3 linked regions of the Homo sapiens genome follow. The protein of the gene in region 1 interacts with the protein of each later gene in a pairwise test. Each region holds a gene or a part of one and is shown on either strand. Other genes may lie near its edges. The genes, in order: CLEC7A, BNIP3L and OCLN.

Region 1 (8,142 bases):
AAAATACTAGATATCTCTTCCAAACTCCATCCTATGCTTTAACTACTTAAAACAGTTAACCATACTCCTCATGTTCTCAGCCTGATCTATCTCTTCCCTTTCTTTTTTTATGTTTATTATACATTACATCATTTATTTATTTATGTATGTATTTTTAATTGTACTTTAAGTTCTGGGATACACGTGCAGAACGTGCAGATTTGTTACATAGGTATATATGTGCCATGGTGGTTTGCTGCACCTATCTATCTCTTCCCTTTCTACATGTTTTTAAGTAATGAAAACAAATTTGCATATTAAACAACAATAGTAAACCTCACAAAGATCTTTATCTTCTCTTAGGTTTTTAAAATTTTTAAGATCGCGAATTAATGCTTTAATATCAAAATATCTACTATAAATATCCACTCCACCCATACCAAATTCATCATCATTTTTGGGGAGAGGGCAAATTGTAATAGTGATTGTGACACACAGGCACATAATTTAGAGGCCATGGGTTTTTTGATAAGAGTTTTTTTTTATTGAAATGAAATCCACATAACATAAAATCATCCATTTTAAACTGCATAATTTAGTAAAATTGGTACAATTTCTTTTCACATATTAATCAACATTAGAGGACTGTAAATGCCTCCCTAGTAATACAGAAATATCCATTGGAAATAAAAATAGCACCAGTGGGAAAGTATGAAAAAAATAAGACAAATCAGCACATGAGGAAATATAGTTTCATTCCAATAATACCATTTTACAGTAATTACTGAAAAAAATGGTAAAAATTGTAAAACAGTACATCACAAAACTAATAAAACATATTCCAAAATGTTAATACTTGTTCCAATGAGGTTGGTTACTTTTTTATATTCATCATCAGATTTTATGTATTTTTATGTATTTTTGTATTTAAAAAGCAGAAAACTTTCCTATGAGAGCAGTTTCCCTACAATTACATATTATACAAGATTCTAGGCTGGGTGCAGTGGCTCACGCCTGTAATCCCAGCACTTGGGAGGCCGAGGCAGGCAGATCACTTGAGGTCAGGAGTTCGGGACTACCCTGACCGACATGGAGAAACCCTGTCTCTACTAAAAAAATACAAAATTAGCCGGGTGTGGTGGTGCCTGACTGTAATCCCAGCTACTTGGGAGGCTGAGGCAGGAGAATTGCTTGAACCCAGGGGGCGGAGGTTGCGGTGAGCCGAGATCGTGCCGTTGCACTCCAGCCTGGGCAACAAGAGCGAAACTCTGTCTCAAAAAAAAAAAAAAAAAAAAAGATTCTATTAGAGATATGGCAGATGTACTCTCTGAGCTATTTAATTGATAAAGAAAAAGTAGGAGTTCCTGCTTTTTACTAAGATGATAATCATAATTATGATCATACTGATGAAAATAATAAAATTGCTCTGACTGTGGTGAAGATTTTTTCCCATTTCTTCATTTAGCTATTCAGAAATATATTTCACCCTCAGTTCATAACTGATATACTGCTAGAAGTTGAGGGTCAAATCGTGGCAACACACCGTGCACTTCAATGGCATTGTTGAGCATGAAACAACTCTGATAGAGCCAGAAATTAAGATTCGCTTATGGCTTACCCAAGGTAAATGCCAAGTCAATGGCAGAATGAAAATTCAAGCTTGGGGCCAGGTGTGGTGGCTCACATCTGTAATCCCAGCACTTTGGGAGGCCAAGGCGGGCAGATCACTTAAGCCCAGGAGTTAGAGACCAGCTTGGTCAACATGGCAAAACCCAGTCTCTACAAAAAACACCAAAAATTAGCCTGGCATGGTGGCATGCACCTGTAGTCCCAGCTACTTGAGGGGCTGAGGCGAGAGATAGCTGCAGTGAGTCGAGATTGTGCCACTGCACTCCAGCCTGGGTAACAAAGTGAGACCCTATCTCAAAAAAATAAATAAATAAAAAATAAAAACTCAAGCTTGGCTGCCCTGATTCCATGTCTAGGGATCTACTAACTAGAAAAATAATACTAGCCTACCTGTAGGTCGACAAATACAGAAATCACAGCCTCTCCCTTCAATTTCTTGGTTAAGATTACAGTTGGCCAAGCTCTCTAAACATTTTCTGCATTTATCTTGACCTCAGCTGTTACTCTTTTCTGTTCTGTTTTCTGTCCTCCTTACTACCTCACATATTTCTCTCTCCTTCTCCACCCTTCCTCTTACATTGAAAACTTCTTCTCACAAATACTATATGAGGGCACACTACACAGTTGGTCATAAATGACTGACACGTGAATCCATACACAATTTGGAGATGGGTTTTCTTGGGTAGCTGTGGTTCTGATCTGAAATCTGTTAAAATAGAATACAGTGAGGTAATTAGAACAAATGTTAAGGAATACTGTCTACATGGCGCACAAATAAATTAGTAAGGATATTGGTGAAAAGAGTTCTGAAGTGTTTCTATTATTGGAAAAGGAGGCTTAAATCTAAATTGTTGTGAATCTCAAGTGGTTAAATGAATAGTCTCCATTATTAAGGCAGAAAAACGACTTAATTTTTTTTCAAGAACTGCTACTAGCTGCATAAACTAAAAAAAAAGTTCCTGACAAAGAAGAAAAATCATTTAATATTCTATAAAAAGTTCTTTATATATCTTTCAGCCTATTACTTAAATGTTTCTTTATCAAATCAAGTAACAGTTTAATTAAATTATTACTGGATATACTTAATGAGTAGACCAAGCAGAAGCATTAATGCTAAAACAGATCTAGAACTAAAAAGAGAATCAGAGATGCCCAGGCCATTTAAAGGCAGGGCAAACAACTCTGTATATTTTAATGTATCCTGGAAGCAGAATTATATTACAATACAATGCTTGACAGTTATGGAAATCAACACTGCTAAATGCAGGCATGGTCCTGTTCAGTTTGGTCTTCAATCTCCTTAAGTAGCAGTGTTAATGAGTCAAGCTCAAAGAGCATCACTGACCGTCAGTGCAAAAGCTATGACTTGGCACTCTTTGTCCTGGTTATGTATCTCTCCCTCTTGACCCTGAGGTTGGAAGATTGAGAAAACTTTGCTTTAGCGATGACTAAGGCTAAGATTAACTACTTAGATTCAGACCTCAGGGAGAACTCTGACCAGCATTATTCCTTAAAAATTTTCCTTGACCTATAAGTGTTTTGGGGGCATAGACACAGCTAGATTAAATAAATGCCACCCGGAAAACAAAAAAGTAGTAACATATCAAAATGTTAACTTGGGCCCACTTGTGATTATAGAAAGAGTCCTCTAGTCATACATTTAAAATAGCAAGAGAAAACTCAAGACAAACAAGTACTATAAGAAAGTAGAAAATACATTTGGCTGATAATAAATTCACTGTACTTAGCCTAGTAGAAGTAAAACAGTTAAGTGATTATGCTCAGCAGTTTGTACTGTTCACACTATTGGGTGAACAGACCTGGTGGTGAGAACAGAGGCAAATGAAAAAACACTTCAAATTAATTCTACAAAGATTTTAAGATAAAATGTTAACAACACTATAAAAAGCAATCTGACATAAGAGAAAACTAATCAACACAAAAGAAAAATAGTAAAAAAAAAAACAAACAGAAACAGATACATATAGAAAATTGGAATTATCAGACACAAGCTAAAACAACTATGGTTAGTGTATTCTGAAAGTTAGAAGACAATACTAAGAATGTTGGAAGAAAAAGTAGAAGTATACGTGTTGAAATAATAGATTTGAGAAAGAACTAAACTAAAATTATAAAACTGAAAATGTCACCAAACAAAATAAAAGACTTAATAGAGGCTTTTAATGGTAGATTAGCCACAGATGAGAAAAAATAGATGACCGGAAGATATGTGAAAGGTTATTACATAGATTGGAGCAAAAAGCTAAAAAAGAATGAAAACACAGGAAAAAGCAAAAGAAACATATAGGATGGTGTCAATGGGTCTGTAATGAATGTAACTGGGATTCCAGGAGAAGGGAAAAAAGATGGGGAAAAGCAAAATATGAAGCAAGTATGGCTGAGAATTTTTCAGTGCTGAGTAAACACATTAGTTTTAAAACATATATTACCTTCAAACAGATGACCTCTCAAAAACAACAGTAAAAAATAGAAAACAGTGGAATAATATATTTGAGTGGCTGAGAGGAAAAACAACAAACCTCTAATTCTATACTTACTGGAAATATCAGTCTTAAGAAAAAATACCTGTAATGTACAGTTGGAAAGGAAGAAAGAAATAAACAACTAAAATCATAAATATGTGGGCAAATTGAAATGAATACTAACTGCATAAATCTGTGCGCCACCTTGTCTGTCTAATTTTTATATCTTTTTTTTTTTTTTGTAGAGATGGGGTTTCACCATTTTGGCCAGGCTGGTATCGAACTCCAGAGATCAAGTGATCCGCCTGCCTCGGCCTCCCAAAGTGCTGGGATTATAGGCGTGAGTCCCCGCGCCCGGCCCAAGGGCTAGTTTTTTCTTTTTTCTTTTTCTTTTTTTTTTTTTTTAATACTGAGTCTGGCTCAGTCACCCAGGCTGGAGTGCAGTGGTGCGATCTCGGCTCACTGCAACCTCCGTCTCCCGGGTTGAAGCAATTCTGGTGCCTCAACCTCTGAGTAGCTGGGATTACAGGCGTCCACCACCACACCCAGCTGGTGACGCATAGCTGTAGTCCCAGCTACTCAGGAGGCTGAGGTGGGAGAATCGCTTGAACCCAGGAGGCAGAGGTTGCAGTAGGCCAAGATTGCCCCACTGCACTCCAGCCTGGGCGATAAAATAAAAATAAATAAATAAAAATAAATACATTAATATAATAGCATATAAATTGAGGAGAGAGTCAACAGAGTAAAGGAATGCTCTATGATTTTTATATTGGTCAGGAAGAACATAAAAATGTCAGTTAATGTTAGTCTTTGATGAGTGAAGTATACATGTGTAATTCCTAGAACAACTACTAAAAGATTAGTAAAAGAGATGTAAAAGACATGAAAGAGCACATTCCAAATGAACAGAAAAAAAAAACAGAATAAGAAAAAGTGTTAAATCGTCCAAAAAGGAGGAAAGAAAGGGGAAAAAAAGTAACAATTCTAAATCTTTATGTGCCTGATAACACGGCTTCAACACATCGAATAAAATGTTTACAGAACTGTAAGTAGAATCGCAGCGGAAGATTTCAACACAATTCTTTTCATATGGAAAGAGGAAGAAGCACGTAAAAATCACAGAACTACAAGCACGTGGAGCATGTTCTCTGATCACAGTGGAACTAAGCCTGAAACCTAAAACAAAGAGATAACCAGAAACACATATGTTTGTAAATTAAGAAATGCATTTCTAAATAACTCCTGGGTCAAAGAGCAGCTCACAGTGGAAATCAGAAAGTATTTTGAACTGAAAGACAATGAAAATACATTAAAATTATAGCCTTAAGTCTACATACTTGAGATAAAGGAAGGCTTAAATTCATGAGGCAAGCACCCAATACGAGAAGTTTGAGATGGAATAGCAAATTTAAAACAAATAAATTAGGTCAGGAGATCGAGACCATCCTGGCTAACACGGTGAAACCCCGTCTCTACTAAATATACAAAAAATTAGCCGGGCATGGTGGTGAGCGCCTGTAGTCCCAGCTACTCAGGAGGCTGAGGCAGGAGAATGGCGTGAACCCGGGAGGCGGAGCTGGCAGTGAGCCGAGATCGCCATTGCACTCCAGCCTGGGTGACAGAGTGAGACTCTGTCTCAAAAAATAAAACAAAATAAAATAAAAATAAATTAGATGGAAGGAAGTAATACAGATTAGAATAAAAGTTAATGAAAGAAATAATAAAAAGACAGAGTCAACAAAGTCAAAAGTTACTTTCTTTGAAAAACCAAATTGAACGGTACTCCTACTGAGACAGATGAAAAAACACACACAGGTGTGCACACACACACTAATAATAAGAACTTAAAAGAGACATATTTCATATTCTGCAGATATTAAAAAGCAAATGAATGACAACAGCAGTGACAGAAACCACATAATAAGGAATAATGTATCATCAGGCAAATGTGAAATACGTTTAAAATATCTTTCTAAAATGCAAAATGTGAAAATGTGGTTGCTTTTTAACTTAATAATAAGTCTCACACATTAACTATGTACAAGACACTGTGCTAAATTATTTTACTTTTATACCCATCTCACAATTCTAAGAGGAAAGCACTCTTTCTTTTTTTCTTTTTTTTTTTTTTTTTTTTTGAGTTGGAGTCTCACTGGAGTCTCACTCTGTCATCCAGGCTGGAGTGCAATGGTGCAATCTCAGCTCACTGCAACCTCTGTCTCCCAGGTCCAAGCAATTCTCCTGCCTCAGCCTCCTGAGTAGCTGGGATTTCAGGCAATGCCACCACACCCGGCTAAATTTTTAGTGGAGGTGGGGTTTCACCATGTTGGTCAGGCTGGTCTCAAACTCCTGACCTCAAGTGATCCGCCCACCTGGGCCTCCCAAAGTGCTGGGATTACGGGTGTGAGCCACCACACCTGGCCAAGAGCACCTTTCTATTCTTGTTTATGGAAAATGGGACTCAGAGAGGAAAAGTGACTTATCCCCAGTGTCACACAATCAGTGAGTGGGGTAATCATTAACCCAAACTGAGGCCTGGCTTCAAAACCCATGCTCTTAACCGGGGAGTTACACTGACTGACAGTGACTGCTCCTTGCCTGGACAACTTCAAACATGTCGATGCCTCCCTAGTAAGAAAACCAGAAGAATATCTGTGTTGATGCTACTAGATGGCCTCACTCTTTTTCACTCTAAGGTCCTCCTCATCTTTCTCCTCTTGTCCTAGTTCACTCTTTCTCTTCTTCTATATCTTTCTCCCTCTCTTTCTCATATATGGTGAGCAAATCAGGTTCTTAGCTGCTCGACAGAGGTTTTCATAGATGAGATGGAAACCTCTCTGAGAAAAAGGATGAAGCATTGTCTCTCCAAACACTTACAAGTTAGAAGAGAATGTTGATCCATCCTCCCAGAGCCATGGTACCTCAGTCTGGGGCCGAGAAAGGCCTATCCAAAATGAATTATCAGGTTGGGAAGACACTTGTTTTACTATAAATCCCTGTAATGAAACATATACAAATATATAATAAAGAGAGAGAGAGAGAGAGAAAGAAACTATTATCATGGACGCTGAGAAAAAGACAACTGATTGAATCACTTTGGTAAAGAATGCAAGGCCGGGCGCGGTGGCTCACGCCTGTAATCCCAGCACTTTGGGAGGCCGAGGCGGGTAGATCATGAGGTCAGGAGATCGAGACCATCCTGGCTAACAAGGTGAAACCCCGTCTCTACTAAAAATACAAAAAATTAGCCGGGCGCGGTGGCGGGCGCCTGTGGTCCCAGCTACTCGGGAGGCTGAGGCAGGAGAATGGCATGAACCCGGGAAGCGGAGCTTGCAGTGAGCCGAGATTGCGCCACTGCAGTCCGCAGTCCGGCCTGGGCGACAGAGCGAGACTCCGTCTCAAAAAAAAAAAAAAGAATGCATGCCTAACCTGACATCAACCTAGAGAGAAGTGCCAATTTTTGAATGTCATTGAATGTCTCAAAAGGCCTATCTTATTTATTTAAAGTAATTATCATTTAATTTTCCAAAAGAATAGATTTGTAATGTGAGGACTGTACTGCCTCCATTCAACCTATCTGACAAAATCCCAGATGACAGTCCCCCTAGGCAGTTTTCATGGATGATTAGCCATTGTCTTCTCCTCCAATTGAAGAAATAAATTGACGCTACTTTCGTTAAGAAGTACTTCTCAGAGTTAGGTAACAACTTAAAAATAATTTAGTCCAACTGTATATTTTATGAATATGTAATCTGAGGTTCAGTGAAGATATCTGAATTGTTTACAAATCTATAACAATTTATTTTCAATTATAGGCTGGCCTAAAAGTCAGATAGACTTGTAATCCAGTACTCTTTCTTTGCCATATATCTAGTTCCATTAACTTTAATATAAATTATTACTACTGGGTAAGACATTACAGAAACAAAAACAAAATAAGAATAGTGAAAGTAGGTGTAGAAGTTATAGACTGGTTTAGATTTATAACATAGAATTTTTCCTATTAACCCCTTATCTTACCTCATTGAAGCTCTACCCTTCATTCATGATG
Region 2 (10,793 bases), on another chromosome or scaffold:
TCCTCATTCACCCATTCTTTTTTTTTTTTTTTTTTTTTTGAGACAGGATCTCGCTGTTGCCCAGGCTAGAGTGCAGTGGCACAATCATGGCTCACTGCAGTCTCAACCTCCTGGGCTCGAGCAGTCCTCCCACCTCAGCCTCCCAAGTAGCTAGGACTACAGGTGTGTGCCACCATGCCCAACCAATTTTTTGTATTTTTTGTAAAGATGGGGTTTTGCCATGTTGCCCAGGCTGGTCTTGAACTCCTGAGCTCAAGCAAGCCTCCCGTCTTGGCCTCCCAAAGTGCTGGGATTACAAGCATGAGCCACTGCACCTGGCTCCCACTTTTTTTAGACACGGTGTTGCTCTGTCACCCAGGCTGGAATGCAGTGGCACAATCCTAGCTCACTGCAGACTTGACCTCCTGGGCTCAAGCAATTCTCCCTCCATCAGCTTCTGAATAGCTGCAACTACAGGCGTGTGCTACCATGCCTGGTTAATATTTTTTAGTAGAGAAGGAGTCTTCCTATATTGCCCAGGTTGGTCTCAAATTCCTGGGCTCAAGCGATCATTCACCCATTCCTAATCCTGCTTTTTACCCTGAACCATAATTTACTAACAGCAACTGCAGAATTAAAAGGTCCACAGAGAGCACCTCGGGCAGCCCCTTGGCTTGACACAGGAGACAGCTGAAGCTCAAAGCATCATGTCGCCCAGGCTGTGAAGCAGCAGAGCCCAGTCCACCTGCCTGGTGCTTCTGGCTGCACTGGGGAATGAAGGCAGGAGCCATTGTAAGGCTTTGAGGATTTCAGCATTAGTTCCCGTCTCCTTCCAGAGGAGATACTGATGGGAAACAGCTCTGTCTTCCTTCAGCATCGACCACCGCCTCCTCCTCAAACATGGAGAAAGTGGAGCCACCAGACAGGGGTTTCATCACTTTCCATTTCTAACTCACCCCTTCTCATGTCTTCATTTCCTGTCATCAATGTCTGGGTTTTGTAAACTCCACCTTTCTAAGGCTCACCCTCCCTGAGTGCTTAATTACATTTCCTTCCTCTCCGGGAGGGAGTACGTCCCACTCTTCCATTACTGATCTGCTCCCTCCGTAACGCTAATATCTCCCTTTGCTCTCTCTCCTTAGCCTACACATTGGCCCCTCTATATTCCCAACCTAAGCCAACAATCCTACTATCCTGTCTCCTCTTCAGAAACTCCCCCCTTGTTTTCTTAATCATGAAGTTTATTCAAAAAAGCCAACACTTCTTGCTATTCATTCATTGACCCAACACAATCTTATCCAGGATCCCTCTTTCACTCCTACAGAAAATGCTCTTGCAAAGATCAGCACAGATCTGACTGCCATATTCCAAAGCTTCTCGATTCATCTTACTTAACCACGAAACATGTCAGGCTTGGTCACCTCCTACTTTTGGGGTTTCTGTGATACCAACAATTTCACCTAGAACTTCTCTTCTGCTTAGCCTTCAAATTTTGGGCTTCCCTGTTGTTTGAGTAACTTTCTTCCTTGCCCATTGTCCAATCTTTAAACATCATATAAATATATAATGCATGGGTCTGATTGTGTTTTACTTCCACTCCAGACCCTTCTCCTGGGTTATAGTTCTATTTAATAAGTGTCCAATCAGAAGGCCCTCAGACATTTCATGTTCAACGCACTCAAAACTGAAATCCTCCCTCTTTGCTCCTACCACCCCATTTCTTCTCCTGTCCTCCTTTAACTAATGGGATCAACCCATGTTTTCGGGCCACACACACAAAGGAATACACACGCCTTCGTCTCTAAGTCACTTTCTGACCAGTTTACTTCCGCTTTGTTTCTCATACGTATCCTGGCCCACCACTGCCAACCTCAGGGTGACAGCCCAGGACAGGCCCTAGCTCCTCGCCTAGAGAACTGATTGATCTCCTCTGGTACTCTCTCACCAGATGGCTTGACTGTCTAAAATTTACATCTTAAATCACCTCCTGGTTTAAAAGAAGTAAACCCAGCTAACTATATGATGAAGTGTGACCCCTGGGAGGGCACACACATTTCAATTAGGTTCAGTACTAACCTACATTTTTCAGTTTCCTCTGTATCCATCCTGTTTTCCAGGCACGTGGAACTTCCAGTTCCTTCTGGATCCACTTTCACTGGTGTCCCACTGTCATTTCCATCAGGGCACACTCTTCTTCTCTCCTGTACTTCCTGAGCACTCCTCCCGTGAGCGCCCTCCTGCCACTACCTGGAGGCAAATGCTCTGAATGCCACAGTCCCGAGGCACTCACGAATGCTCACACTGCGGTGACTGTCCCCACAGAACACCGTTCACACCCTGAGCACTGTTAGGAACTCCACTGCTGGGGAAGCCAGATGACTGGAAGGCTGTGTGTAGGCGAGGAGGCCTCATCGCCTGAAACTCCCAGGCAACAGGTGCGACAGAAAAATGATATACTGACAGGAAAAGTTTTGTGAGAGCTTTAATGGCACAAAATGTTTATAGCTACAAGTTATACATGTATTGTAAACTGTATATAACGATACAAAGTGCTAACTAAAATAGATGAAGAATGCATAATCACTTTGGCTCAGTTAATTCCAATAATTTCCACAACGGGTTCATGAAAAAACTTATCTGACTGGCTAAGTCTTCAATTCTCATTTTTTTAGAATAGTAAATATTTTTACTGCAATCACGGGAACTTGTTGCACTTTCCAATGTGCAAGTTTGTGCAGTTTTGCTCTTGATTCTATTTACAAACATCTTGAGCCAGTTTTCATCAAACATATGAAAAATGAAGCCTGCCTTTTTGTCCCCAAATTGTAAACAGGTGTAAAGCTTTTTAAACATTAACCTCACAATTTCAACTATTAATTGTTGAATTCTCCTTTCCAAACCACAATGTTTTCGTTCAACACAAATCTGGGTGTAGCAGTAAAACGTTCATCCCATGTGTTAGGGCTACAGATACATACTACATGCTCTCATAATAAATTCTACTGTGATGATGTATTCACGTTTTAAGTAATTTTCCATAATTTCACTGATGCTTTAAGAAAAAGGGCAACACTATGTTTCTTTTTAACGCTGAAAGAAATCATAAATATACCCAGTTTCAGTGGCACCACTGATAGAACTGCTGCTGAACTTGGAAAGAGCACAATGCACTAGCTGTAAGAAGTCACTTTCAGGTAAAGTGTAATTTTACTTTTCCCCCCTGTAATACCAATTGTAATAGAAATTGCATACTGTAGCAGTTTAGCTAGTCAGTTCTCCTAACTTTCCAGTCTTTCCAATTTTATTCAGGCTTTTCAAAAATCAGTGAGCCATCAGATTTACTTTCTTCCCAAAGAAATTCAAATATGAACACTTGAAATAAATAGGTTATAGAAGGCAAATCAAGTGTTACCAGGTTTAAGAGTAAGACAGAAACATGGTCTAGGAAAAAGATGTCCAAAATTATTTAGACATCAAATGCTAGAAAGAAAAAAGAAAATTACTTTCAAAACTAGGATATATCATCTTTCTTAAAGATAGCCAGCTATATTCTTGAAAAAAGATAAAAATTTTGTTTAATCTATATGTTATTTTCCACTATAACACATCAATTTTACAAATGTTGATGTGAGAAAAGAGTTAGTTTCTGCAAACTGGCAAACCTGTCTGTCATAGTGTTTTTATTCAAGTTGACCTGGTGCACTTTATAGATTGCTAGTTTTAAAATTAACAACGGTTCTCTAAATAGTCAATATCAATGTCTATATCATAAACAGTAATTATTTATATATAAAACATGTGGTATCCTTCAGAGTCATGCTAGATGTTCTGAAATCCAAGAAAATCTACTCGAGATAACTGGTCATCCTGATGCTTTCTAACAATTTGGTCCTAAAGCTTCACATTTTAGAAATGAACGAACAAGTATATCACTGAAGGAATCTGTTGAGTGTTCTGAACTTTAAGAGTTTACCATAACTGAAAAGACAGCTACATGAGAAAATGACCAGTGCCTGCAGTCGCAGGAATCACCTTGGGAAGACTGTACAGTAAACATTATTCAGTGAGAGATCAGAAGGAAACAAATGGCATCTTTTCAGAACGCTGTCAACTGTTCCCACAACCCAAGTCTGTTTTTCCAAGTTGCACAAGTGCTTGGAATAACTCTGAAACAATTCTCTTCAGAGTTTAAAGGCTTCAGAGTATAGGTGATGCTTCCTAAAACAAGAAGCCTGTATTAACATCACAAATTGGAACTCATTCCAAAGCCTCTTCTTAGAGAAAAAAAAATAAAGAAATAAAAAATAAAAAATGTAAAGAAGGTCATGAAAAATTCACATGCAGCTAATTATCGTAAAAAATATCAAACACACACGCAAAAATCTCAAAAAGCAATTTCATATATTTCTAAGCCTGAGACGTTCCTTATCAGAAAGAAAGATTCTACACCATAGAAAAGACAGCATTACAACATACTAGTATGAAAATCTGCTGATGTATTTTACTTCTTATTCTATTTCATACCTATCATTTATACAGTTTGCCTCCTATAAATTAAAAGACGCTATTAGGAGGCTTAGACAAAAAAGTGGCTCCAAAGCTGGTTTAAAATATTTTTTTTATTGCCCAGGATATTTTTTTGTTGTGCCTTGCCTTTTTTTTTTGTTTTGTTTTCTTTTTAATAACTATCAACTCAAACTTAGGGAAACTTGCCTTTGTCTTGGGGGAAAAAAAACAACTAGACAATAAAGCTTCTTTTACATCATTTGCTAACCTGATCTCGTTTTAAGAGAGAGATGGTAGTTATGTTGCAAGAGTAAAATTTATACCATGAATGATACAGGTCTAGTCTGGTGGCACTAATTAGAGATAATAGCATTGCTGACAAAATTATAATCTGCTGGTGGCATTTGCGGAAAAGAAGCCCTTGCAAATTTCTAAACAACAGTAAACTCTGTTAGGAAATTCTAAAATGTCTTCAGGCCAAAAAGGGTATAAGGTTAGTAAAATGCCTCAACAGAGTTTGAATAAAATATTGAATTTGAGAGTTACTGGAATTGGATATGTAAAAACAGGGTGGTAGGTTGGGTCATGCTTACAATGGTCTCAAGTTCAAATAAGCTACTGTGACAATACACCACTTCACAGGTCACACGCATTTCCAGGGGCTTTTCCTTTCCCTCAGTAGGTGCTGGCAGAGGGTGTGCTCAGTCGCTTTCCAATATAGATGCTGAAAGGAAGCAGAAGCATCATGTTTCACCTGTTTCAACAGTTCTATACCAGCTTGTCCACAGGTTGAACTCTACTTAAAACTCTTCAGTCTTTGTAAAAGGCTCTAAAGGTTTGTGGGTACCGCTCCCCAAACACCGTGAAATCATCACTGACTTTCTTAAAACCAGTCACCAGCCCGGCCAAACTGGTTTTATATGAGTTTGTTTACTCATTAAATATCGGGGCTCGACAGCAAAGGGGTAGTGATTAGACAAAGTAAAGCCAGAGAGAACAGATCCCTCCACAGAGTAAATAAAGCAGCCCAACTCCTTCAAGATGTTCCTCTTTGGTGGACAGAAGGTTCTACTGACATTTCAGACACAAAAATATAGTAATATGTGAAATTATTCTGGTGCTCTATGTAGGACAAAAGAAAAAAAAAACCTTAAAAGCTGCCAGTGCTTTAAAGACAGCTCTTACTAATAACTCCTAAGGATTAGGGGCCTTATAATACTTTTTCATGCCAAGAAAGTATTTGGCCTCTTCAACAGCAAAAGCAGAAGGGAAGTTAAGGAAAGTATGTAACTAGCTTCACCTCCAGTGCAATTAAAGCAACGAACTTTTTAAACACTCTTTTTACATTCATCTATAGCAATAGTTATACTTACAGCCAAGACAAACAATCTGAAGATGACTGAAAGAGAGACGGCAAGGTATAGACACCAATCGCTTAAGGGCAATGAACTGCTGTATAGGCAGCAATGTATTAAACTCCTACACCTGCCCCACATCAACCCCCACGCAACAGTCACACAGTCCCCTTCTGCACAAACCCCTTCTAGGTTGCTGTTTGTTGATTACTGTCCTTGCCCTCACAAAAGCAGATCAAGCACCCAAGAGAGACAAGACGGGTGTGTGGAAAGCTGTATGCAAGTTTCTGAGGTCGTGACTAAGAATCTCTCTCCAATATGCTGAGCTCCTTAAAGGGAAGAAAAAGGATGACCCCATCTTCTGCATATCTTATACTGAAAATGACCCACTGGGCATGCTTAGAGCACAACATACGTCTTGAAAAAAATTAACAGCTACTGTTTAACTCCTAAAATCTTTCAGAAGTGTAATTCCTCAATTGTTTAAATCAAGGAAAAAAAGCAATTTATTTAAAAGATGTGGCTAAGAAACTAATGAATTACACGTAAATATGAGGTTGATTTTAGCAAAATAAATGAAAATACTACAAAGTTAAAAAAGGAAAAAATTAGCACCAATCAACCTACCAGTTTCATTAAAAAAAACTATTCAATGTAATCATGTATTTTCCCATATGAAAAAAAGGTATTTGCACTGACCACAAAATGTACATGCTAAAGATTAGTTTAGTTCATAAATTACTCAAGATTAAATATTACACAACAAAACCCAAAAAGAAAAATCAATCACAGAGGAGTCCGCTTACATTTGATCATTTAGGGGATTATTATGAACATCTTCTTTTTTTTTTTTTTTTTTCCGAGATGGAGTCTCACTCTATCCCCCAGGCTGGAGTGCAGTGGCATGATCTCGGCTCACTGCAATTTCCGCCTCCCATGTTCAAGCGATTCTCCTGCCTCAGCCTCCCAAGTAGCTGGGACCACAGGCATGTACCACCATGGCCAGCTAATTTTTGTATTTTTAGTAGAGACCGGGTTTCACCATGTTGGCCAGGCTGGTCTTGAACTCCTGGCCTCAGGTCATCCACCCATCTTGGCCTCCCAAAGTGCTGGGATTACTGGCATGAGCCACCACACCAGGCCAAACATCTTATTTTCAAATAAGAAAACACACTCTACTATTATTAAAAATGCTTATTTGTAGAACAATTGTGCACCCACTTTTTTAAGTTCACCTTATTTGCACTAAAACATTGAAAGTAAAGCAATAAAAACTGCTTTCACATACATTTCTTCAATCTGAAAATAAGAGGATAAAATGAATGGAAAAAACTTCAGGAGTTGACCGGTACTTACCCTAGCCCCAAAGCCAAAACATGAGAAAGGAAGAGAGATGGAATGAACACCTTCAGAAATTCTGCGGAGAAAATACCCCCTTTCTTCATGGCTCCACTTTTCCTCATGCTTAAAGACACAGAACGTTTAGGGTGTCTGAAGTGGAACTCCCTGAGAAAGAAATTCAGAGGCAGATGTCATTTGCTGAAAATATCGTGGGGATTACCAGGCCCATTGCCTGTAAGCGTGCGCAGATCAACTGTGTCCACTGACAAGAAACATGTGAGAACTCACTTGGGTGGAATGTTTTCGGGTCTACTGGACCAGTCTGATACCCAGTCCGCACTTTTCTTCAAAGCCTCGACTTCCTTCTCTCCTTCTACAACTTCTTCTTCTGACTGTAAAGAAGAATTCAAACTTTAAGAAAAAAAGGAAGACCAATTCCTCCTAATACAAAGAAAAATCTAGACAGAAAAGATACCAAACTCATAAGGTTGTGTCTCAGAAATTTTAGATAACAAACATGTTGCTTTTCTAAAAAATGCTGAAAAATAATGTAAGATCAGAGTATGTAATATCTTCAGAACAACCTGAGTGAGCTTCACTGTTGGGATATCTAAGCACAGCACAGGAACTGCATAAGACTGTACTTTGGGATGTAATGCTAAGGGAAGTATGAAAAACCTCGATAAGAGTTAAATCTGGGCAATACTTACATGGAGGTCCATTATATTATTCTCTCTTGTATGCACTTAAAATTTTCGTAATTAGGCCGGGTGCAGTGGCTCATGCCTATAATCCCAGCACTTTGGGAGGCTGAGGCAGGCGGATCACTTGAGGTCAGAAGCTGGAGACCAGCCTGGCCAACATGGTAAAACCCCGTCTTTACTAAAAAAAAACACAAAACTTACACGCTGGGTGCGGTGGCTCACGCCTGTAATCCCAGCACTTTGGGAGGCCGAGGTGAGCGGATCACAAGGTCAGGAGATCGAGACCATCCTGGCTAACACAGTGAAACCCTGTGTCTACTAAAAATACAAAAAAATTAGCTGGGCGTGATGGCGGGCACCTGTAGTCCCAGCTACTCGGGAGGCTGAGGCAGGAGAATGGCGTGAACCCAGGAGGCGGAGCTTGCAGTGAGCAGAGATCGCGCCACTACACTCCTGCCTGGGGGAAAGAGCGAGACTCCGCCTCAAAAAACAAAACAAAACAAAACAAAAAAAAATTAGCCGGGCATGGTGGCGGGCACCTGTAATCCCAGCTACTTGAGAGGCTGAGGCAGAAGAATCGCTTGAGCCTGGGAGGTGGAGGTTGCTTGAGCCTGGGAGGTGGAGCCGAGATCCAGCCACTACACTCCAGCCTGGGTGATAGAGTGAGATTCCATCTCAACAAAAAAAAGAAAAAAAAAAATTTCATAATTAAAAAAATAAAAGGAAATAAAAGGATATGCTAAAAATAAAATGATGAGAAGTAAAACAAAAATAAGTGAGAGATGTGATGAGGAAATAAATAATAGTATTTATTGAGCACTTAAAGGGGCAAATATTATTCCAAGCATGTTACATGCATTTTTTTTTTTTTTCTGGAGACAGGGTCTCCTGTGTCACCCAGGCCAGAGTGCAATCACAGCTTACTGCAGCCTCGAACTCCTGGGCTCAATTAATTCTCCCACCTCAACCTCCCAAGTAGCTGGGACTACAGGTGTGTGCCACCACGCCCAGCTAATTTTTGTATTTCTTTAAAGAGACAGTGTTTCACTATGTTGCCCAGCCTGGTCTTGAACTCCCGGGCTCAAGGGATCTTCCCTGCCTCAGCCTCCCAAAGTGCTGGGATTACAGGTGTGAGACACTGCACCCAGCCACATGCATTAACTTTCACCTTGCAACAAATAACCCTATAAAAATAATTATTAAAATCCCATTTTACAGATGAGGAGACTGAGACATAGATTAAATAACTTGCCTAAGGTTCCACAACCAGTACATAGCAGGGCCAGTATTCAAACCCAGGAATACTGTATAGAGAGGCCCTACTGTTAAGCACCAGGGTTTACTCTCTGGAAGGAGATTATATTTTTAGGACAAATTGCTATACAAACATTTTCCAAGGTTTCGAAACTATGTTAGCCAAAAGTTTTTGGGAATAATCTATAATAAGTTGAGTCAGAATTTAACATGTGTCATATCAAATAAAATAAAAAATGTGACTTTTAAAAATTGCTTATTATAACCTAAAGTTTCAGGCCAAGAACAATTAACATTTCCAATAGCTCCCCTTTTAATAGAACCAAAAGGAATGAAAAAGTCCTAAAAATGATATTTATTTATTCAGTATTATTTATTCAGTTTTCTTTTTGAGACGGAGTCTCGCTCTGTCACCCAGGCTGGAGTGCAGTGGCGCGACCTTGGCTCACTGCAACCTCTGCCTCCTGGGTTCTAGCAATTCTCCTGCCTCAGCTTCCAGAGTAGCTGGGATTACAGGCGCCTGGCACTACACCTGGCAAATTTTTATATTTTTCGTAGAGACGGGGTTTCACCATGTTGGCCAGGCTGGTCTCGAACTCCTGACCTCAAGTGATCTACACGCCTCAGCCTCCCAAAGTGTTGAGATTACAGGCGTGAGCCACCGTGCCTGGTCATAGTCAGTTTTAAGGGATGTCATGCTATGATCCCAAACCCAGGGGTCTCAAAACTAAGAAGCATTTTGACATTTTATTTTGTTTGACTAGGATTCACTCAAAAGAATGACCAAAGCTGTCATTCTTTTCAGTAGGTAGCTAAGAAATGCAGAGTCTGACATATTCACATGACTCTTGACAGGTCTAGTTCTCTGTGAAACAGCTACCCCAGGAAGGAGCTTCAGACAGGGCAAAGTAAAACCCCTGTGCGTTCTGCTGCTCTTGTTAGTACCAATCTTATCTAGTTCTGCTGAACTTGGCAAATTCCACTGAATGACACAATGTAGCATTTAGGATTAAGCTCCTTCCATTGGCTATTGAGATTACTCAGAATCATGAGTTGGCTCTTTGGAGTAACACTGAAATCATCCCAAATCAAAAACAATAAACTGTTACAATTTACTTGCACATCAGTTCCTGTACACACAATATCTGACTATACTCAACACACTGCAGGTCGCTTCTGTTTAGTTTCCTGCTTTGGCCTCACAGATCTTTCTTTAAACCTGCTCAAAGATTTAACAAGTTAATATTTCATAATTTCTGACAGAATGAAACGCAGTAAGATTTCACGCTCTAATTTTTTTTTTCATGAGGATGGAATTTTCTCAGTTGAATGAAGCAAAGTTATCTCTGGACAAGTGTTTTAAAAAGAAAACAAAACAAAAAAGAACTCCATAAGTTTCCCAACTTACAATACTTTAAGAATAAGAGTGGTAAGCTTTCCTCATTCACTACCACTCTGTGCTTCCTTTTATTAATCTTAAATTTGCCACTTTCAGGTTTTAAACTGCCTTCCAATTCTTAGAATTCCAGAATATGGTAAAAATGTACTTAATCTAATTACGTAAGATTTGTGCTTTTAAAATCAATAATCCTCTCTCTATACCTACATCTATTCAAAGAAGATTCTGGCTGGGCACCATGGCTCATGCCTGTAA
Region 3 (11,719 bases), on another chromosome or scaffold:
GCTGAGGAGGGCAGATCACTTGAGGTCAGGAGTTCAAGACCAACCTGGGTAACATGGTGAAACCCCATCTCTACTAAAAATACAACAATTAGCCAGGCGTGGTGGTGCGCGTCTGTAATCCCAGCTACTTGGGAGGCTGAGGTGGGAGAATCGCTTGAACCCAGCAGGTGGAGGTTGCAGTGAGCCGAAACTGTGCCACTGCACTCCAGCCTGGGCGACAGAGTGAGACTCCGACACTCTGTCTCAAACAAAAACAAAACAAAAACAAAAAAACAAGAAAAGCTGCTATTTGGAAACCCCTGTATCGAATAAAAGGAGTCCCGTACCTCAAAACCAAAGAATAACAAGAGAAATTTGTGATCTGCTTAAAGTGTATTGGTTTCACACTGACCCAGTTCAAGAGATTTTTCTAGGGTTAGGATTCCTTATGCTAAATTACGAGATAATTATTATTATCTTTTTCAGTTTGGGGACACAGGAGGTAAAGAGCCCCATGAAGTTAAAAGTAGGTAAGCGAAGACAATATTTGGTTAATGTTTACTTTTTCCTCTTTCCTTTTTTGAGCTTAAAAGATTCAGGAAGGCTAGTTCCTGAAAAAGCCTGCAAGGCCAGTTTTCCACTGCAATAGATGACTGATACAATTAAAAAAAAGCAGTCCCAAATCTCTTTCTCTGTATTATCCTTATAATTGTGCCAATATTCTGTCCCACACCAAACCCATTTACTCTCTCTTTAGATGCTGATCTCAACTTACTCTGATCCTATGAATGTATTTTCTGCTGGTATTTGAAAAATGTTATTCACAAAACAAAAATCCTAGATGTGGATCTCCAACTATTTTCTAAGACTGTCTCTAAACCCTATTCTTAGCAAATTTTGGCCGGGTGTGGTGGCTAACACCCGTAATCCCAGCACTTTGGGAGGCCGAGATGGGAGGACTGCTTGAGCCCAAGAATTTGAGACCAGCCTGGGCAACATTGAGAGACCTCATTTCTGTTTATTTATTTGTATTTATATTTATATATTTTTTAAGACAGAGTCTCGCTCTGTCACCCAGGCTGGAGTGCAGTGGCGCTATCTCGACTCACTGCAGTTTCCACCTCCTGGTTTCAAGCGATTCTCCTGCCCTAGCCTCCGAAGTAACTGGGATTACAGGTGCTTCCACCACGCTGGGCTAATGTTTTTTGTATTTTTAGTAGAGACGGGGTTTCACCATGTTGGCCAAGCTGGTCTGGAACTCCTGACCTCAAGTGATCCACCCGCCTCCGCCTCCCAAAGTGCTGGGATTACAGGCGTGAGCCACTGCACCCGGTCTGATCTCATCTTTATTTAAAAACAAAACAAAACAAAAATCAGCCAGTTGTGGGTGCGTGCCTGTAGTCTCAGCTACCCAGGAGGCTGAGGTGGGAAGATCGCTTGAGCCCAGGAGATAGAGGCTGCAGTGAGCCATGATCATGCTACTACACTCCAGCCTGGGTGACAGAGGTGACTCAAAATAATTTTTTTAAATTATGAAATACAAAATTCCTACAAAAATGTATATAAAACATATGCACAGCTTGATAAATTGTTGTAAGGCTAACAGCCGTGTAACTTGGACTCGGGAAGAAACAGAATATTGCCTATATTGCCTATAGACAAAAAGTAGTCCTAAAATATAGTAAAACTGTTCAGAACATTGGTTCAGGAATCAGATGACCTGTATTTGAATCCTGACTCTACAACTTAGTAGACAACTTGAGTAAATGATCAATACTTTCTGAGCTTTAGTTTTCCTATGTGTAAAATGGGGAAAATAATAGTACATCATAAAGTTCTTGTAAAGACCAAAAAAATAAAAATAAAAACCCAGCCGGGGCCGGGCGTGGTGGCTCACGCCTGTAATCCCAGCACTTTGGGAGTCTGAGGCAGGCAGATCACCTGAGGTCAGGAGTTTGAGACCAGCCTGACCAACATGGAGAAAGCCCGTCTCTACTGAAAATACAAAATTAGCTGGGCATGGTGGCTCATGCTTGTAATCCCACTTACTCGGGAAGCTGAGGCAGGAGAATCGCTCGAACCTGGGAGGTGGGGGTTGCAGTGAGCCAAGATCGCGCCATTGCACTCCAGCCTGGGCAACAAGAGTGAAACTCCATCTCAAAAACAAACAAACAAACAAACAACCCAGCCGGGCACGGTGGCTCAAGCCTGTAATCCCAGCATTTTGGAGGCTGAGGCGGGTGAATTGCTTGAGGTCAGGAGTTTGAGACCAGCCTGACCAACACAGTGAAACCCCGTGTCTACTAAAAATGCAAAAATTAACTGGGCGTGGTGGCGGGCACCTGTAATCCTAGCTACTCAGGAGGCTGAGGCAGGAGAATCGCTTGAACCTGGGAGGCAGAGGTTGCAGTGAGCTGAGATTGCGCCATTGCACTCCAGCTTGGGCAACGGAGCGAGACTCCGTCTCAAAAAAAAAAAAAAAAAAAAAAAAAAACCCAAAAACCAGAAAAAAATAAAAAAAAACATAAAACTGCCGGGCATGGTGGCTCACCTCTGTAATCCTAGCGCTTTGAGAGGCCAAGGCGTTAGTATCACCTGAGGTCAGGAGTTCGAGACCAGCCTGACCAACAAGGTGAAATCCCATCTCTACTGAAAATACAAAAATTAGCCAGGCGTGGTGGCAGGTGCCTGTAGTCCCAACTATTCAGGAGGCTGACATAGGAGAATCATTTGAACCCAGGAGGCGGAGGTTGCAGAGAGCTGATCACACCATTGCACTCCAGCCTGGGCTACGGAGGAGACTCTGTTTCAAAACAAACAAACAGAAAACCAAAAAAACACTTAGCATAGTACTTAGAACATGTTTTTCCCTGAGTAAATGGTGCTATTATTATTCTTCCACCTGTTGAAGTTCCTGTTCAGGTGCTGAGTCTCTTTGTTTAAATATGGATTCCTCCCAGGAGGATCTTGCTTAACACATAGGAATAGAGAAGATAAAGGTTTACTCATCTAGTGTAATCATCCTTTTAGAAATTGTCTTCCTAGTGGCTTCCCCATAAATTCTTCCATACACCTGTCCAAGGAAACTGTCCTGTGTGGACCAGAAGCCTCCCCCTCCTCATGACTGGGCAGAGAAACTAGAGGCCTTTCAGGCCAGGCCCTCAGCAACTCCAAACTGAGTTGCCTTGGACACATACCAGTCTTTGAATTCATTTACTAAGCAGGCAAGGCAGAGTGGAAACAGTGGAACTATGTTAATCTCCCGTCTTTTCTCCTCTAAACCCTAGTACTAGAGATGTAAGCCTTGAAATGCTACTAAGGAACGTGCGGGTTTCACAATAGCAGGAGGCCATCTGAGAGGAGGACAAGACTCCACAGGCATGTTGGATTTGGGAAGCAGGGCTATAGTCATTCATTCATTCATCCAACACATAGTTATGTAATTCCTATGTGACAGGAACTATTTCAGGCATATAGGATACAGCAATGGCTTGCTCAATTTATTGAGACTTGTTTCGTGGCTCAGCATATAGTCTGTCTTGGTGAATGCTCCACATTCCCACCAACAGACTTATAAAGACAGTATTGTTTATTATCATCTCAAATTTACGGTGGAAAAAAATGAACCTTACATAGTTTAATTTCCTTTAGTCCTACCCAGCTACCAAGTAGCAACACTGGAATTTGAACTGAGATTTCTGACACCATAATCTGAGCTCTTAAGTTTCTCTTTTACACATAGAAAAGGAGAAACAAATTGTCTTTTCATCTTATCCATTTGACTGCAGGTAAAGTCAACAAGTTTCTAATCATGGGGTTCTGAAAATAATATTTACATTGCTCTGAGTCACGGGGATTTTCATCAAATAATATTCAATAGTGGATACTACTCAATACTACTGTGAGTTGCCAAGAAGGAATATTTGGTAAAAAATATAGTAATTAAATTTTGCTATAATTTATGATTATGTAACATGATTAAATTGAGCATGGCATCATTTAACATCCAACAAATTTTGTTTTGGTATTGAAGAATGATGTGTTTAAGTTTTAAGGCTGGATTTTCTTTCTAGACACTTTCAACTATGAAATATACACAATATTGGACAATAGTTAACCGTTCTTTTGATGTTGTTGTTTAGAAAATTAATCTCAAGCGAATAAAATAGAATTCATACAATTAATGAATCCTATTATTCCATATGGATGAACTCAGAACTAACTAGAAAGTAAGTTTCACAGAGATTTTTGAGTTTTGTTCACTCGTGTGTGTACAGATTAGGCACTCAGAAAATAGTTGAAGGAATGAATTGGGAAAGCAAATAGAATATGAAAGCCTTCTACCCAACACAACATGTCTTTGAGTTTAGGTTTAGGGTGGGAATAAGAAAAATAACATGATATGCATAAGTTATCTTAAAATGATAAAAAGTTTAATTTAAAAACCTAATTTACCAAGAGAACCGAAAACATATGTCCACACAAAAACTTGTACACAAATGTTCATAGTAACATTATTCATAACATCCCCAAAGGAGAAACAACCCAAATGTTCATCAACAGATGAATGATTAAACGAAATGTGATACATCGATACAATGGAATATTATTCAGTTATAAAAAGGAATGAAGTACCAATACATACTACATCATGGATGAACCTTTAAAATATTATGCTAAGTGAAAGAAGACAGACACAAAGGGCACATATTGTATTATCCATTCATATAAAATGTCCAGAATAGGCAAATTAATAGAGACAGAAAGTACATTAGTGGTTGCCGAGGGATGAGGGGAGAGGGGAAATGGGGAGTGACTATTAATGGGCATGGGGTTTCTTTTGGGGGCGATTAAAATGGAATTAGATGGTGGTGATGGTTGTACAATCTGGTGAGTATACTAAAACCCACTGAATTGTACGTGCCCTTTAAAAGGGTGAATTTTATGGTATGTGAACTCTCTTTTATAAAGTGGAAAAAAACTCCTAAGATCTCTTCAGAACATGTCAAAATACATTATAAAATAATAGACATGTGTTTACAAATCTGAGAGTATTAGGAAATGTTCCCTTGTTTAATTATAAACCAAATGGAATGTTTGGAGATTTCAGTAATCTGACAGGGAACATTAAGGGGATTAACCTGACTTCCCCAGTGTTAACAATACCAATTTAAACTGCATCATTCAAAAACTACATAGTCATATTAAAGCATTTGTAGCAATGACTTCCACGAAAAAAATACCAATTAAATTAATTACCCATTAAAGCTGCCATCATCTGAAATACCTCATATTTATATAGTGCTTTTACTTCCTCAAGTATGAATTGTGCCTTAAGATCTAATGTATGGGAGAGTCACATCTCTAACCATTTAATTAAAGGTAGAGAAGTGGGTGGGATTGGATAGAAATTTATTAGCAATGCTGACATTCCAGATTGGAACACAAAGACAAGCAGGATGTAAGAAACCTAAAAGTTCGCTTTCAATGCAGATAGTTAAATGCCAAGAACTATAATTGCCACATCCTGGAGTACAATTAAAAAATATGTTGAAAAACAACCAACATACATAAAAATATACACAGTGTTAAGTGCAGACTATGAAATTTCCCTTGGAAACAGAATCCAGATCAAGAAATAGAATACAGCACCCGGAACTAAGGTGCTTTTTCGTTTTCTTAAAAAAAAAAAAAAAGTAAACCAAGTTTATTTTGCTTTTTAAGTAGTGTTGTTCTTAAAGCACTACAGGTTGGTAAACAACGTATAAGGTGCTTTTTCTCAGGCCAAAGAGCCATAATAGTTTAAATTTCCCGGTCCTCAAGAGCGGACCGGGTGGGCAGGAGAGGACCCTGGGGTGGTGATGTGTAAACTGTATTATGCACTTTAGCCTGCTGGATGGCAACTAACACCTACAGTAGTTCACCCTCATTTTAACCCCTCTAAGTAATTGTCTCTTATTCTGAATCTAGAGATTCAGAAACAGCGCCAATGTTTACACACGACTTTTGAAATTTTCCCAGGAGTCTTTCGTTGGAGCAATACATCTAGATGCCTTTTTCCAGCAACAGTTTAATCAAATTCTGGAAGCAGAAAAGTGTCCTGTGAGGACGTGCCTTTCCTATCAAAGTGCTGAGTGCCTGGACCCTCTTTCCGGAGGAAACAGTCCCCTCTGGACCTCGTTCGGCCTCTCTCCATCAGACACCCCAAGGTTCCATCCGAAGCAGGCGGAGCACCGAACGCACCCCGGGGTGGTCAGGGACCCCCATCCGTGCTGCCCCCTAGGAGCCCGCGCCTCTCCTCTGCGCCCCGCCTCTCGGGCCGCAACGTCGCGCGGTTCCTTTAACAGCGCGCTGGCAGGGTGTGGGAAGCAGGACCGCGTCCTCCCGCCCCCTCCCATCCGAGTTTCAGGTGAATTGGTCACCGAGGGAGGAGGCCGACACACCACACCTACACTCCCGCGTCCACCTCTCCCTCCCTGCTTCCTCTGGCGGAGGCGGCAGGAACCGAGAGCCAGGTCCAGAGCGCCGAGGAGCCGGTCTAGGACGCAGCAGGTGGGACTCGCGGCGCTGGCCCGCAGGCTTCCCGCACCCCCTTCCACGTTGGTGCGCATGCCCGGGGGCAGGGCCGGTTGTAGGGAGGAGGGAAAGGAGAGGGAGAAGGGGGAGGAGACGTCCCCAGCCCAGTCCCCGGCTGAGCGCTGGCGGTCGGTGCGGCGTCAGGTGCGCCCGCCAGGTGAGCGCGCTCCCTGGCACCGTTGGCCCCCGGAGGGTCGGGCCCAGTTGCGGCGAGCGGGTGAGTGTTGGGCGCGGCGTCAGGGGCGCACGGGAGCCCGAGGGTCCCCGTGGGGGGACCGCGGCGACTATGTTAGGGGAGGTGCCGGGGGGAGGACGCTCCGCGCTGGTTTCGGTGGCAGTTTCGTCCCCGAGCTGGGACTCGTGGGAACCAGAGAGGCGCGGGTCTGCGGAGAGAGCAGCACCGGCCAACTTGGGAGGCTGCCTCCTGGGGCGAGGGGTGGCTTGGAGCCGCCGATCAAGCTTTATTCCGCGGAAACGCTGAAAGCTAGCAGTGCCTCAGCGGCGCGGGCAACTTTTCACTTTTATGGGGCACGACATTCCTGAACAGCGACGATCCTGCATCCGCTCTGGGGCTGCAGTTTGGGGGGGCGGCCTTCATGGAGAGGGATCCTGCGCCCAGCTCCTTGGGGGTCCTAAGCCTGAGGCTGCAGCGAGGCGGCTGTTCGGCGGCCCGGGCGGCTTAGATCCCGGGGGGAATTTCATTCCTTCCGCTCCCACCCCACCCCTTTGGATATCCCGGGGAGACGGGGGCTGGATTCAATCTGTGAAATATTCCAGGAGTCACGGTGTGGGCCACACTGGCTACTTCGAATCCACTTGTTGCGAGTTGTGTGAACCCGCGTCGATTTAAGCTGGGGGGCGGGGAGTTAATTTCGAGTGAGGCTGGACTTCGAGGGAAGCTGCTCACGCTTCGGATTCTCATCCGTGACCAAAAGGGCTGCCCCCAGGGGGGCGGAACTGCCTCCGGGCGGTGCCTGCCCGGCGAACGTGGGCGCGCGCTGCCTGGGAGCGCCTCGGTGCGCACGGAAGCCGGGACCCGCGCCCAGCCGGGCCACGGAGTTTGGGGACCTCCGGGACTGGGCCGGCCCCGCGCGCCAGCCATGTTGCCTGCGTCGGAGGAAGCGTGCGGGGAGCAGGGGTCGAGGGCCAAGATGGCCTCTGCGCCTAGGGGTTGGGAGCGGCGCCGAGCCCCTCGCGCTCCTCGGGAAGCCACCGGGCCCGAGGGAAAAGCCGCGGCATCCTTAGGCCGGACCCGGGGCTCGCTGGCCACACTGCCCGCTTGGGGAATTACCCTGCTCGAGGAGGAGGCGGCGGCTTTCCAGGCCAGTCAGTGTGTGGCCCTTAGGCAACAGGTGTATTATTGGGATACCTGGAAAAGAGAAACGTTTCCCATGAAGGCACTTATGGTGTTTTTTGGTGATTCTTGGTGTGATAGAAAACTAGGCGTTCCCAAGTGTAACAATAGTAACAGTAGTTCTTTTGCACTGTACATATGAGGTGCTTGTGTGTGTGTGTGTGTGTGTTTTTCCGAGACGGAGTCTGGCTCTGTCCCCCAGTGCAGTGGCATCATCTGGGCTCACTGCAACCTCTGCCTCCCGGGTTCAAGCGATTCTCCTGCTCAGCCTCCCGAATAGCTGGGATTACAGGCACCCACTAGTATGCACAGCTAATTTTTGTATTTTTAGTAGAGACAGGGTTTTGCCATTTGGTCAGGCTGGTCTCGAACTCCTGACCTCAGGTGATTCGCCCGCCTTGGCCTCCCAAAGTGCTGGGATTACAGGCGTAAGCCACCACACCCAGCCTTTATGAATATTTTCTTAGTGGTGCTTTAAAATAGACATCTTAAGTGTGTGTGGGAGGCAGAGATATTTCCTCAAACAAAGCAACACTTTTTTTTTGGTCGTTTTGCAATTTATTTAGTTATTAGGGGCCTCCTTTGTTAGGTGACGGAGCAGAGGATAGGGAGATCGGTAAGACATGATTCTCCACCTTTTGGCAGTTTCCAGGCCATTTCGGGAAATAGTGGGCAGCAGTGCCTCCTGCACGTGAGGCACTGTGGTAAAAGCATTCTGTATTTTCTCATTTAATTATCCCAACAACTCTAAAAGGCAGGCCTTAGTAGAACTCCATTTTAAAAGTGGGCAAATGCCGTGGGGGAAACGTTGCAGGTGGGCTTGCTTGCAAACTGCTTCAGCTAATATGGGAAGGAGTATCAGAAGCAGCGGTCCTTGATATTCCAGAACCAGATTTGGGGAATTTTTCTGGACTTTTCTACCATTGACTAGTAACTGTAGCCTGATACAAGATTTCCCGCATTTTGCTTGATATCAAGGTAAAATTCTTGTTTTCTTCTAAAGGTAGTGTTGGAATTACTACCTTTTCAAAATAGTATATTACTTTTAACCACATAAATGATCTGATGTAATATCTTTCATCTTCCTAGGAACCTCCCAGAAGGAAGTTTTCTTCAGTTGCATTTTAAGGCTTATTTGATTGGAATATTAATGGATCTTTTTCATCAAATTACTATTTATGGAAATAAGAGAGTAAACAGACCATGCAGATTTATGTTAGGCTTTTTGTTTTAACCCCTAGGCTTGCCGCTGTTCCGTAACCCAGTGATTCCAGTCTTGGCTGTGGTATGAATCACTTAGGGATCCTATTAAAACACAGATTCTGATTGGGAGGTCAGGAGTGGGGCCTGGGATTCTGCCTTTCTAACAGGCTCACAGGTGATTCTCAGACTGTTCTGTCTTCTTTTTCTCCCTTTCTCTTAGACTCTACGCACTTAATTACATTTGACAAACTGAAGTTGGAAAAAATAACGTTTATTGAGTGTTGTGTGAAGAACTTCAAGGCATTCACTGCTGGATTGAAATCCCAACTCTAATAATTGACTGTTGGTTTTATTAATTGAGTACTCATTGACAATCACTTTGTGCCAGGGCTAGTTCCAGCGACCAGGGATATAAATGATGGTCAAAATAGACATTTGATGTCTGGGATATGGGCATTCCAGATGCGGTGGAGATGATACCTATATTTTAGGTATGAGGGCAGAGGGGAGTTTGCTCTGAAAAAAAAAACAAGTTTTGTGTGATGGAGTGAGGGACAGGGAGGGCATCTCCCAGAAGGTGACGTCTGAGCTGAGACCTGAACAGCAGGTGTCTGTTGTGTAAAAGATCTGGGCTTTCTAGACAGGAAATTGCAAGATCAATGTCCTTTTTGGATTGACACCTTTATTGTAGACAGCAATTCTCAAAATATGTGATGTGTTTAAAAATCACCTGGAAGATTTATTAAAAATACAATTTCTGACACAGAGTCTATTACAAAATCTGCCTAACTTCAAATTTTTAGACAATTTACTAATGATGTGCCTGTAGTCTAAATCATTTAATATAAGGCACAACTTAAACTTTTTTTTTTTTTTTTGAGACAGAGTCTCGCTGTCTCCCAGGCTGGAGTGCAGTGGCACGATCTTGGCTTACTGCAAGCTCCGCCTCCCGGGTTCACACCATTCTCCTGCCTCGGCCTCCCGAGTAGTTGGGACTACAGGCGCCTGCCACCATGCCCAGCTAATTTTTTGTATTTTTAATAGAGGCGGGGTTTCACTGTGTTAGCGGGGATGGTCTCGATCTCCTGACCTCGTGATCCTCCCGTCTCGGCCCCCCAAAGTGCTGGGATTACAGGCGTGAGCCACCGCGCCCGGCCACAACTTAAACTTTTTAAAGGCAAATTGACAGTTACTGCATGTGCTCTAAAAGGAACAGACTTCTCTTAAATACAATAAAGTTTATTTTTCACTTATTGACAGTTTTCTTTAAAGAATAATTTGAGGCCAAAGCATTTTCAGACTATTTTTTCTTTTTTTATACTTTTTTTTTTTTTTTTTTTTTAAGATAGATAACGGAGTCTTACTCTGTTGCCCAGCCTGATCTTGAAGTTCTGGGCTCAAACAATCCCTCTGCCTTGGCTTCCCAAAGTACTGGGATTACAAGTGTGAGCCACCTTGCCCAGCCTCAGCCTGTTTTTTTCATCTTAGCTTAGTTTTCCATTAAGACAGCTTTTGGTCAGTAAACATTGTCAAGGGGAGAACACTTTATATTTTATCATTAGCCCAAGATGCTGGTTTTCAGATTAACATATTTGACAAGGATCTATCTGCTGCTTCCCTTTTGCCCCCGACTCTAATTTAGCTGTCTGACTTCTGTCCTTGTCACTCTCCTGACATAAGTTCCTGTAGGTGATAAGTGGCCTCTTCATTCTCATTTTTTCCTTCACTCAACACATGTACAGATTGTTAATGTTGCTGTGCTGGGCATTGGTCCTCTTTCACCTTTGGCTGCTGGCCTTAAAGCACAGTCACAGATTCACTTTGAAAGAGACCTTAGAAGTCTTCCAGTCTGGTCTCCAAAAAAATATCAAATAACTTAAGCTTTGCATAAATTGCATGAGCTCAAATTGTTGTTAGTTATTTTCGGAGAGGGTGTGGGGTCAGGGTGAGGGAGAGGCTTCCTAACATTGAGATGAAATCAGCCTGTGGTTTTTGGAATTTTTTTTTTTTAACCATTTCTAGGATAACAAAGACAGCTCTTCATATATTTCAGGGCTGCTAAAGCGATTCTTCTGACGTTAAGTTCTCCAGGCCAAACATTTCCTGTTTTTCCAATCATTTGTCTTAAGACATGGTTTTTCTAGATTTTTTTTTTTTTTTTTTTTTGAGCCAGAGTCTCACTGTGTCGCCAGGCTGGAGTGCGGTGGCACAATCTTGGCTCACTGCAACCTCTGCCTCCTGGGTTCAAGCAATTCTCCTGCCTCAGCCTCCCAAGTAGCTGGGATTACAAGCACACACCACCATGCCCAACTAATTTTTGTATTTTTAGTAGAGACGAGGTTTCACCGTGTTGGCCAAGATGGTCTCGATCTCCTTGTGATCCACCCGCCTCGTCCTCCCAAAGTGCTGGGATTACAGGCGTGAGCCACGGTGCCTGGCCAGCTTTTCTAGATCTTTAATGATCTTAGTCACCCTCCTGGAGAGGCACATAGTTTAGAATGTGATGTACAAATCAGGTTTTGTTTGTTCTTTTTAATAGCATATTATTCCTAGATATGAGCACTATTTCTGTGAATAAAGTTTGGGATAGGTTGTTAGCTTTTGTTG

The links.
Region 2: the proteins of CLEC7A (region 1) and BNIP3L interact in binary tests that used the Homo sapiens proteins (3 or more experiments, as listed by UniProt).
Region 3: the proteins of CLEC7A (region 1) and OCLN interact in binary tests that used the Homo sapiens proteins (3 or more experiments, as listed by UniProt).

What each region holds. Positions count from the first base shown.
Region 1 is NC_000012.12:10,116,277-10,124,418, forward strand, and holds the end of CLEC7A (C-type lectin domain family 7 member A), read right to left. Parts: intron 7,088-8,142; coding exon 6,969-7,087; intron 2,315-6,968; coding exon 2,182-2,314; 3' UTR 501-2,181; downstream 1-500.
Region 2 is NC_000008.11:26,404,780-26,415,572, reverse strand, and holds the end of BNIP3L (BCL2/adenovirus E1B 19 kDa protein-interacting protein 3-like), read right to left. Parts: intron 7,574-10,793; coding exon 7,470-7,573; intron 7,347-7,469; coding exon 7,197-7,346; intron 5,210-7,196; coding exon 5,161-5,209; 3' UTR 2,446-5,160; downstream 1-2,445.
Region 3 is NC_000005.10:69,486,129-69,497,847, forward strand, and holds the start of OCLN (occludin), read left to right. Parts: upstream 1-6,661; 5' UTR 6,662-6,772; intron 6,773-8,897; exon of another isoform or gene 8,898-9,287; intron 9,288-11,719. UniProt on the Homo sapiens protein: May play a role in the formation and regulation of the tight junction (TJ) paracellular permeability barrier.